2 separate regions of the Homo sapiens genome follow, and region 1 is linked to region 2. Evidence: fine-mapped expression QTL. Tissue or cell type: coronary artery. Region 2 holds a variant in brackets; the other region holds the start of a gene. All regions are shown on one strand. Distances are between the middles of the regions.

Region 1 (5,000 bases), 89 kb before region 2:
CAAAACACACAAACACACAGTCATATCACAAACACGGAGACACATATGCCTACACATGCACAGACACGCATGCTAACGCCTTCCAATATGGCAGCCAAGGGGCTCTTGCTGTGGTCAGGGAAGAGGGGGAGGGAGCCTGGCCATCCACCGTGGGGAGGACATGCAGCGCGCATCGTGAGGACTCCAGACCCCTGAGGGTGGTAGCAGCAGGAGGGCAACAGAGGATCCTAGAGTTGCTGCACCTGGGGGCAGATCCAGTTGTTACAGGGCCTGAGCATTCTACAGCTGGTGGGGAAACCCTCTTTGTGCCCTGCACAAGTGGTAAGCACTTAGAAGACATCCCTGAAGGAGGGAGAGAAAGGGAGGGAGAGGGAGGGAAAGGGAGGGGGAGGGAGGGCAGAGCCTACCAGGAAGCCTGGAGGAAGCCTGCGACCTGGGACCCAGGTCAGCTCCCTGACCCAGGCCAGTGGGTGAACTGACAAGTGACAGAGTCTGGATTTGAACCCAGGGACTCGGCTGCCCATGTTCTTAACCTGCGTCACCTATCTGCCTCTCTCATACTGACTCAATGTAGCTCAAACAAGTGTAAAGCAAGAGCTTCCAGCACAAACAGTGGGCTTCGGGCTCAGGCCTCCAGAAACACTGCCTGGGGTGGGAGCCTGGGCGCTGGGCCAGCTTCCACCCAGATGGGGAGAAGGGAAGGGCTGCCTCATCTGCAGAAACGAGTCTCTTCTGTTCTCTTCTCCCCACCCCTATCTACACCAAGGTGCATTCATGGATCGCAAGGTTTCTTACTAATTTTTTGTTTCATTCACTGGTGTCTTTTATTCCTTGTTCTAAATTACTTTTTTTAATTTTTACTTTTATAGAGACAGTCTCACTGACACCCAGGCTGGAGTGCAGTGGCACGATCATGGCTCACTGCAGCCTCAAACTCCTGGGCTCACACAGACACACACTCAATACAGACACACACCTGGACTCAAGGGGCCCTCCTGCCTCAGCCTCCAGAGTAGCTGGGACTACAGGTGCACACCAATGCCCAGCTAATTTATTTTTATTTTTATTTTTGTAGAAACGGGGTCTTGCTATGTTGCCTAGGCTGGTCTTGAGTTCTCGGCCTCAAACAATCCTCCTGCCTCAGCCTCCTTAAGTGGTGGGATTACAAGCATGATTAATTATTTTTAAATAAGTGACTTGATTATTATTGTTTTGTAAAAATCCTCTTAGTCACCTTTGTCCCTATAGGTTTCTATAGGTGCTTAATAATTTTTTAAAGGTATTTACCAGTTCTGGCTAAACATTCCTTTGGTCCTGAGCTCTGTGGAGAGGTAATGCATCTGTGGGAACATCATCACCCTCATCCCCAACCCATCACCCCCAGGGGATGGGGGGGAACGGGGGTATATTTTGTGTGTGTGTGTTTTGCTTAAGTAGAGTGGTCAGCCCTGAGTGTACAATAGAATCACCTGGCTGTCATTATAGACATACCTGAGCTCAAGCCCTCTGCAGACAAAGTAAATCAGAATCCTAGGAATGGGACGAGCTTGTTGGCAAGGGTTGGGCATCAGTACGTTTTACAAAGTCCTGAGGGGATTGGGTGACCAGGATTGGGATCCACTTAAGGGAAGTAATGCTGGGGACTCTGGGGACCCTTTAATGGCAGGATTATTCTTTGATGAAGGACCTGACCTTCTCCTGGAAGTTGAGTGTGAGCCTTTTCACTTTCACCCTCGACTTCCCTCTCTGGGGACACCCAGTGTTCTGGCCCAGACTGTTACCTGAGAAGTTTCTGTGATTCCCCATCCTTCCTGCACTATCTTGGCTGTTCCCCTGCCCGGCGTTTATATTTTGTCTCCAGCTGTCCCCTGTGCTCTCAATCCCACTTCTCTTTGGCTCTCTCTTTGCTGCAGCTAACCATCCTCTTGCCCCTGCCCCAAAGTGACCCATGAGCCAGAAGTCAGGAGTGAAGGGGGGCACTGTGACATCAGAAGTTGCCATGCACCCCCTCCTGAATCTTCTGCCCTGCTCTCTTCCTCCTCTGCAGGCTCAGCGGTCACCAGCAATGCAGTCCTCAAACACGGACATTAGAGTGATTATTCCCACCCCCAAGAGTGAACACCTACTATGTGCTGGACCCTAGACCAAACACATACACACATAAAGATACACAACACACACACATGCACACACACACACCCCAACATGCATGACCTCATTTGAGATCTCTGATCATTTCAACAAGCAGTTACTCTGGCCCAGACGCAGCCAACTACAGAGATAGACAAGACCTGTGGTCTCTTTCCTTAGTGCCAGAATCTCCTAGAAGGTCTATTAAGACAGATTGCTGGGTCCCACTCCCAGGGTCTCTGATTCAGTATATGTGGGGTGGGGCCCAAGAACTTGCCTTTCTAACAAGCTCTCAGCCTTCTTCTGAAATAAAATCCTCTTTAGATAAGCTGGAGAGAGAATGGCTGTCACTAACAGGCTGTTGAGAATTAGCCTCCTTCTCCCCAACTCCATTGACCGGCCAGTGCTTGGCAATGGAGAGAGCGAGCAGCTTCTAACCTCCCCTGTGGCCCCAACCGTGAAAAAGTCCCCAAGATGCCAGGAGGACACAGTGCAGAGCAGGCTGTAAAGTCTGGCAGTTTAATTGCAGTCATCAACTCGGGGCAGCACCAGGAGACAGGCTGGACTTGCTCTCCCTGTGTTATCATCATGCCCTGTTGACAATCCTTTGAAATGTCTCTCCCTGTGTCTGTTCCTTCTGCTCCTCTCCACTCCCCCACCACCTCTCCAATCCCAGAGTTCAACCTGTCCAGCCAGGAATGTAAAGTCCCCTCACTTCTCTGCAACCACAGCAAGCACTTGAGCTTCCTCCAAATCATACTGACTCAATCATATATTTCCCACGATCTCCTTTTCTTCATAGTTCTCTATAATCTTCAGAGAGAGGTGCATTCTAGAAAAAGGCCAGGCAGAAAACACCTGTGTTTCAGCCTCAGTTTTATCATTTAGTTGTAAGAAAACATACATCAAGTGGATCCCCAACAAAAATCTACCTCTCCTCACTGCCCACGAGTCAGTACCTAGAGCCTCAGGCAGAGCCCTCATTGCTGCGGTTCTCAAAAAGCCTTTCTCTATCCTCCCCTCTCTCCAGGCTCTAGTTCCTCTTCAACTCCAGCCCTAAACTCCCTGAATTCATTCTCGCTCTGGAGCTCCCGTGTCAGCGGAGCCATGCCTTCAACCTTTCCATGGGCCCCTATTTTGTGGCTCAGTGTCCCTGAGCCCTGAGTATCTCCATTCAGTTCTTCAAACAAGTTCTAGACAAGGGAAGGATCTGAGCAAAGTCACGGAGGTGCGGGACAGCCTGGGCGTCTGGAAATGCTACGGGAAATGCACAGGTGAGGGGGATGGGGGGGAGTTGGGGTGGGCCAGTCTGACAAGGTTCTGCTCTCTCTCCCAGCAAGTCTGGGGAAGACAGTGGACATCTTTGAGTGCACAGGCCAGGTGTGAAGTGTAGCGGATGAGCAGGGGACCTCCCCTGTGGTTCCACAAGAACCTCCAAAGACTCACCCCAGAAGTCTTCTGCAGCTTGAAGTGACTCTCTGAGCTGCTTATACCTAGCGCTGATGTGCAATGGGCCAGGGCCCGGCAGGGAGCCAGACCCTCGGACTCGAGAAAGCCATTTGAGAGTGACATCAGCCCACCACCTGCTAGTGCGCACTCACAGTGTTTCCGGAAGCCATGATGCTAATCATGTCTGTTTCTGTGTTGTCCATGGCAAGACTCCAAGCCCAGAAAAGAAAATCTGTAGCCCAAGTTATTTTCCTCCCACAGGGCTTGCCTGGCCTTTGATTGTTGGCTTTGGGGAGGTGCATTTCTCCCTCCTCTGTGGGCAGCAAATTCCCCGTGAGTCAACAGATCCTGTATCTGGGCTCACCATGGGCTTCTACTGGCACTGAGAAGGGGCAAGCTGAGCAAACATGCAATGTGACCCCAGTGCTGACCAACCCAGAGATGCCCCATGGGACTCAGGGACTTGACCTCAGTGCTTCTGGGGTCCCTCAGTGTATCTTGCTGGCCTCAGCACTGGGCTGCTTGGTAACCTCCCCACAGGCAGGTACTAAGTGCAGCCAGCCCCTTCATTCAAGGCAGAATGAATTAAAAAGCTGGGGTTCCAGAGTTGGCTCCAGGTCACCCATGCACACACCCCATGCCAGGTACTGCTCTCAACTCTTCACACACTAGCTTATTCTGGGCTCAAAACTCCCAGGAATACCTTCGAGGCAGTTTCCACTACTCTAATCCCCATTTTACAAAGTGATGAAACTGAGGCACACAGTTCAGTAAGTTGCCCACGGATACACAATTCATAAGTAGAAAAATCAAAGTGCAAATTCCAGAACGTACACCACTAAGAAGGGGCCACGAGGCAGCTCTCCCCACCTGAGAATCCCCCTGAAATCCATGGTGAGCCTGCCCAGAGCCCCCACCCCTACCCAACTTACATTGGCTGCTCTTCCTTTTGCCCCAGAACCCCAAATAACTGGCCAAATGGACTCAGGTGTATCCCTTTGGCCTCCACGCTCAAGTTTTATATGAAAAAATAAAAAAACACAGAAAAAACTCAATGCGTTAGGTCAGTTTATTAACTCTCCCTCTTGGTCCCCAAATTGCCTTTCAGGGTGTTGAGCAGCTGCACACATCACCCCTTCCTCATGAGGTCCCCTTGGCCCTTTACCTCCAGCTGAGTAAGTCAAAGGAGGACATATGATCAAACCAGGTAGTCCACCGGCTGACCTCTGACCTACAGCCTAGAACAAAAAAGAGGACCTGGGCCAATCCAATTATCTCTCAGGAACGCAAAAGGAGGTAGGAAACGAACAGGCAATTGGCCTCAGAAGCCAAAGCACAGAGGATGCTCTGAGGAACACAAAGGCCACGAGAGGTCTTGACAAACCAAACTTCGATGCAAATTGGTCTATAAACTTCTTAAG
Region 2 (5,263 bases):
CGGCTAATTTTTTGTATTTTTAGTAGAGATGGGGTTTCACCATGTTAGCCAGGATGATCTCAATCTCCTGACCTCGTGATCCACCTGCCTCGGCCTCCCAAAGTGCTGGGATTACAGGCGTGAGCCATCGCGCCCAGCCTGTTTCTTGTTTTTTAATAGCTTTTTTGAGATATAATTCACATATCATACAATTTACTTATTTAAGGTAAACAATCTAATGGTTTTTAGTACATTCACAGATTTGTACAACCATCACTCCAATTTTACAACTTTTCATTACCCCAGACAGAATCTTTGCACCCACTGGCAGTCATTCCCCATTTACCTTCAAACCCCTCAGCTTCTAGCAACAGCTAATCTATCTTCTGTCTCTACAGATTTGCCTATTCTGGACATTTCATATAAATGAAATCATACAATATGTGGTCTTTTGTGACTGGCATGAAAGATGAAAGAAAAGTAAAAAACAGCATTTTAGCAGGGTTCAAGTAGAATTTGCTTTCGATAAGTGAATTTATTTAGAGAGAATTAAATTTAGAATAGAAATGTTATGTGATTTTGAAATGTGCACAATAAATCAAAATGTAAAGTATCTACAGAAACTATATAAAGAAATGGTACATTCTTGGAAAATAGCACAGAATTAAAAACACAGGTGTTCAAATAATTGGATTTGCTGATTTTAAAACTCAGTATTAAGTATGCCAATTATTCACAAGAAAATCTGAAATGTCATCTTTGTCTTACACTAAATGTTAAATTAGCAACATGCAGTATTCACAAGCACATTGAAACAACTCTGCCTTGACTCCCATCAGCTAGCACTGACATACATACAGAACAACACTGGACACTAACACAGCTCATGCAACTTCTCCTCCTACCTGATTTTGGCTTTTCTTGGTCTATTAGTCGTCTCCTCTTCCGCATCAAACAGTGAAACATCTTCAGTGTCATCATTACTATCCTGGTTGGAAAAATAAATGGTCAAGAAGCAAAACAAAATTCAGTGTTTACACAGCCACTGCAATGCAAAGCTGCATACTCATCAAAATAGAAGATAAAATAATGTGGTTACAGCATCAGGAATTCAAAACCTAGAAAAGGACACATGCAGATCCTCCACCCGCCTCCTCAAATCATCTGGCAAAAACCCCAGAGAATAATCGAAGTCTCAGCTCCTCCATCCCTGCCCCTAGGCTGCACCATCTGAGAAAACTCTGGGGTGCAGATGAGGCTACTACAACTTAACACCTGTCCTCCTCACCTGTTCTCTCCCAAGTCACAGAGCAAGCCGAGGCTACTGGGGATAATCTCAAGGTTTCTGGCTCCTTCACAAAATCATCTGACTGCATCCTTAGTTCCATGACCCCTTCTCACAACTCCTCCTCTTCTTATCCAAGGCTAAACCAATTATTTGTGCTCAGAATAACTTCTTTTCATGCCTCCTCGGGGATTTGTTTCATCATTTTCCCCTGTATTTACACTTTCTTCTATCTTCAAGTCTATCTATTGGATCTTTCTTTTTTGTTGTTGTTGAAATGGGGTTTTGCTCATCACCCAGGCTGGAGTACAATGGCACGATCTTGGCTCACTGCAACCTCCGCCTCCCGGGTTCAAACGATTCTCCTGCTTCAGCCTTCCAAGTTGCTGGGATTACAGGCGTGTGCCACCACACCCAGCTAATTTTCATATTTTTAGTTGAGACGGGGTTTCACCATGTTGGCCAGGCTGGTCTTGAACTCCTGACCTCAGGTGATCTGTCCGCCTCAGCCTCCCAAAGTGCTGGGATTACAGGCCTGAGCCACCACGCCTGGCCTCTATTGAATCTTTCTAATCAGCATATGCATATAAACTTCTTCAAGGCCACTTATTAGGCAAAAAAAGATTTTTTTAAGAACCCTGATCCTGAATCTCCTCTTCAATCCTCTACCTTCCCAAAGCATTGCTTCCTTTTACCTTAGGCTTTTTTTTTTTTTTTTGAGATGGAGTCTTGCTCTGTCGCTCAGGCTGGAGTGCAGTGGCGTGGCCTCAACTCACTGCAACCTCTGCCTCCTGGGTTCAAGTGATTCTCCTGCCTCACCTTCCCAAGTAGCTGGGACTACAGGCGCGTGCCACCATGCCTGGCTAATTTTTTGTATTTTTTTAGTAGAGACAGGTTTCACCGTGTTAACCAGGAGATTTCATGACCTTGTGATCCACCCGCCTCGGCCTCCCAATTGCTGGGATTACAGGCGTGAGCCACCATGCCCGGCCCCATAACCTTAGGCTTCTAAGAGTGGTTCACACCTCAATTCACTGCAATTCCCCTCAACTACAACAAACCTGATCCTGTTCCTCTCCTAGCGCCACTCACCAGCCTCCCTGCCTTTATCCCTCTCTATTCCAGCCTCTCCTTTACATTACCCAGAGCAATCCTCCCAATATGGAAATCACACCATGTCACTCTACTGCTCAAATTTTTCAATGGCATCCCTACAAGTATAGGATAAAATTTAACTCCTTCACATAAAGCATAGAAGATCACAGAATCTAATGCCCCCTACTTGCTTCTGACACTGTCTTCATTGAGCACTGTTGAGCACTGAAGCAATACTGTTACTACATGGTCTCTAAGAACACTACGGTCTCTCTCCCATCTCCTGCCTTTCACATGTTGTCTCAGAAAACTCTTCCCTTCCCCATGCCCTGCTCACCACCAAATACCAAATCATCCTTCAAGTTTTTTAGCTCAAATACTGAAATAGCTGAAAACCTGTCTCTGAAATCCCCATGTTCCCACAGCACTTGGACGAATCTCCATTTGAACAATTATCTCAGAGTATTCTTATTGCACATCTACCCGCTCCTACCTCCATATAGATTAAGCTGCTGGAGGACCTAGAAGACAAGGTTTTTTTTTTTTTTTTTTGAGACAGAGTCTTGCTCTGTCGCCCAGGCTGGAGTACAGTGGTATGGTCTCAGCTTACTGCAACCTCCACCTCCTGGGTTCAAGCTAGATTCTAGTGCCTCAGCCTCCTGAGTAACTGGGATTACAGGAGTGTGTCTCGGCTAATTAGCCTGGCTAATTTTTGTAATTTTAGAAGAGACAGAGTCTCACCACGTTGGCCAGGCTGGTTTCAAACTCCTGACCTCCAGGGATCC[G/A]CCCACCTCACCCCCCCATAGTGCTGGGATTATAGGTGTGAGCCACCACGCCCAACCAAGACTGTCTTTGCATTGTAGTAAATCCTAGTGTCTAGCAGAGCATTCAGCCAAGTGGTACAGTATTTGTTGAAGGCATGAGTAAATAAGCAAAGGAGACGATAATATACAGCTGACTGTGATCAGGGCTGAGAAATCTAAGTGCAAATGGGAGCCAGGGAAGGAAGCAAATCATTCCTACTACAGGGCACTGGAGAAGCTTTCTGGAGGAGAGTTTGTCAGCTGGGCCCTGACAGTCCGCGTAGGCCTCCCTAGACTAGGTATATTTTGAAAGGCACAGGTGGGAATACAGGAAGTTTGTCTAAGAAATGGTCAAGTAGCTCATGCAGTAAGTGATGGATGCGAGAAGCTCCTACTGAGCTAAGGCTGAAAAGGTAAAATGGATTCAGATCTATGAAACTAGTGGTTCTCAACCTTGGCTACAATTAGAATGCTCTTTTTCTTAAAAAACAAACAAACAAACAAAAAAAGGCTGATACTTGGGTCCAGCCCTCAGTGGTTCAGATATAATTGCTTTGAGGTGTGATCATAACGTACAGCAAGACTGAGATCCACCGTATGATGTTATGAATAAAAAGCTGAGGCCTTCTGCTCTCGATCCCAACAGTCTAATCGCCATCCAGCGGCCAGGGAGACTTTTTCACATCAAATCCTATCATTCCCCTACTGAAACCTCTCAGCACTATGACTGAAAAACAGACTCCCTATCATGACCTATCATGATCTGGTCCCTGCCAATCTCTAAGACCTTATCTCAGGCCACTCACTCTTCATTAACTGTGGTAGGCTGAATACCTCCTCACCCCTCCCAAAAATGTTTAGGTTCTAATCTCTGGAACCTGTGAATATGTAAATTTACTTGGCAAAAAGAATTTCACAGATGAGATTAAGTTAAGGATCTTGAGGTCAAGAGATCATCCTGGATTACCCAGGCTGGTCAGATGACATGATTACAATGGTCCTTACAAGGGAAACAAAGGAGGGTCAGTGAGAGAAGGTGATGAAACAAGCAAAGTAGAGGTGAGAGACAGAGATTTGAACAGGCTGTGCTGATGGCATTAAGATGGGGAAGGGATCCCAGGTGTTTAGAAGCTGAATCAGGCAAGGAAACTGATTCTCCAGAACCCCTACCCACACCTTGATGTTTAACCCCTTGAGCCTCATTCTGGACTTCTGACCACCAGAACTTTACAACAGTACATATGACTTCACTGCCGCAGTAGCAACAGGAAATTTATACAGTACCTAAGCTCCTGCCAGACTGGCCATTTTTTTTTTTTTTTTTGACACAGGGTCTGGCTCTCGCCCAGGCTGGAGTGCAGTGGAACAATCAGGGGTCACTACTGCAGGCTCTACATCTCAGCCTCCTGAGTACTGCAAGCCACCATATCTAATATTTTAATTTCTTGCAGAAATAGGGTCTCGTTATGTTGCCCAGGCTAGTCTCAAACTCCCGGGCTCAAGCAATTCTCCTGCCTTAGCCTCCCAAAGTGCTACGATTAGAGGCATGAGCCACCATGCCCAGGCTGGCCTTCTTTTCAGTTCCTTAAACATGCCAAACTTGGGCCCCGTCAGGTTCTTTTGCACTTATGGTTCATATTACCTAGAACACTATTCTCTTACCCTGCTCTTTGAAAGACTGATTTCTTCTCATTTATTCAGTAAATACTGAGTGCCTACCAAGTGCCAGGTACTGCTGTAAGTGGTACAGATTTAAAAAAAAAAAAAAAAAAAAAAAGACAAATAGCTCTGCACTCCTGGAGTTACATTTACTAAGATGGGGAAGACCATGGACACAAAAGATTTCGGGGCAAAATCAGCAGTTTGATTTTGGACATTTTAAGATGCTAAACGACATTTTAAGATGCTAAAACCAAAAAAGCATTGAAAGGGAGATCCATTGGAGTGTTTTAAGTGTAAGACTGCATGTTCTGACTCACCTGTTAGAAAGAGAATTCTGGCTACTGTAGTAAAAATCTGGAGGGGGAGGGGAGAAGAAGGAGGGACAAAAGCACAACGCTAGGAGACTGGTTAGGAAACTACTTTAATCACGAGGCCAAGA

Alleles and levels. Alleles are on the strand shown, and positions count from the first base shown. SD is a standard deviation of normalised expression in the study named.
With allele G in place of A in region 2, the expression in coronary artery of the gene that starts at base 1,943 in region 1 is higher (large effect, 1.1 SD a copy in GTEx).

What was found. PIP is the estimated chance that this variant, and not a neighbour inherited with it, causes the effect.
Region 1: it holds the start of CDRT4, and the variant in region 2 is fine-mapped to the expression of CDRT4 in coronary artery (GTEx, PIP 0.98).

What each region holds. Positions count from the first base shown.
Region 1 is chr17:15,465,679-15,470,678 of GRCh38, forward strand. It overlaps CDRT4 (CMT1A duplicated region transcript 4), which reads right to left and starts at 1,943. Exons shown (of 4, transcript NM_001204477.2): 1 at 1,782-1,943. The region is part of intron 4 of TVP23C-CDRT4 (TVP23C-CDRT4 readthrough); the gene reads right to left. It overlaps CDRT3 (CMT1A duplicated region transcript 3), which reads right to left. Exons shown (of 1, transcript NR_146601.1): 1 at 4,633-5,000.
Region 2 is chr17:15,554,398-15,559,660 of GRCh38, forward strand. It overlaps TVP23C-CDRT4 (TVP23C-CDRT4 readthrough), which reads right to left. Exons shown (of 6, transcript NR_037924.2): 2 at 885-967. It overlaps TVP23C (trans-golgi network vesicle protein 23 homolog C), which reads right to left. Exons shown (of 6, transcript NM_001135036.2): 2 at 885-967. Among named protein-coding and RNA genes, the nearest start is that of TVP23C, 6.5 kb to the right of the region's middle. The variant G/A (reference allele first, on the strand shown) is at 3,145.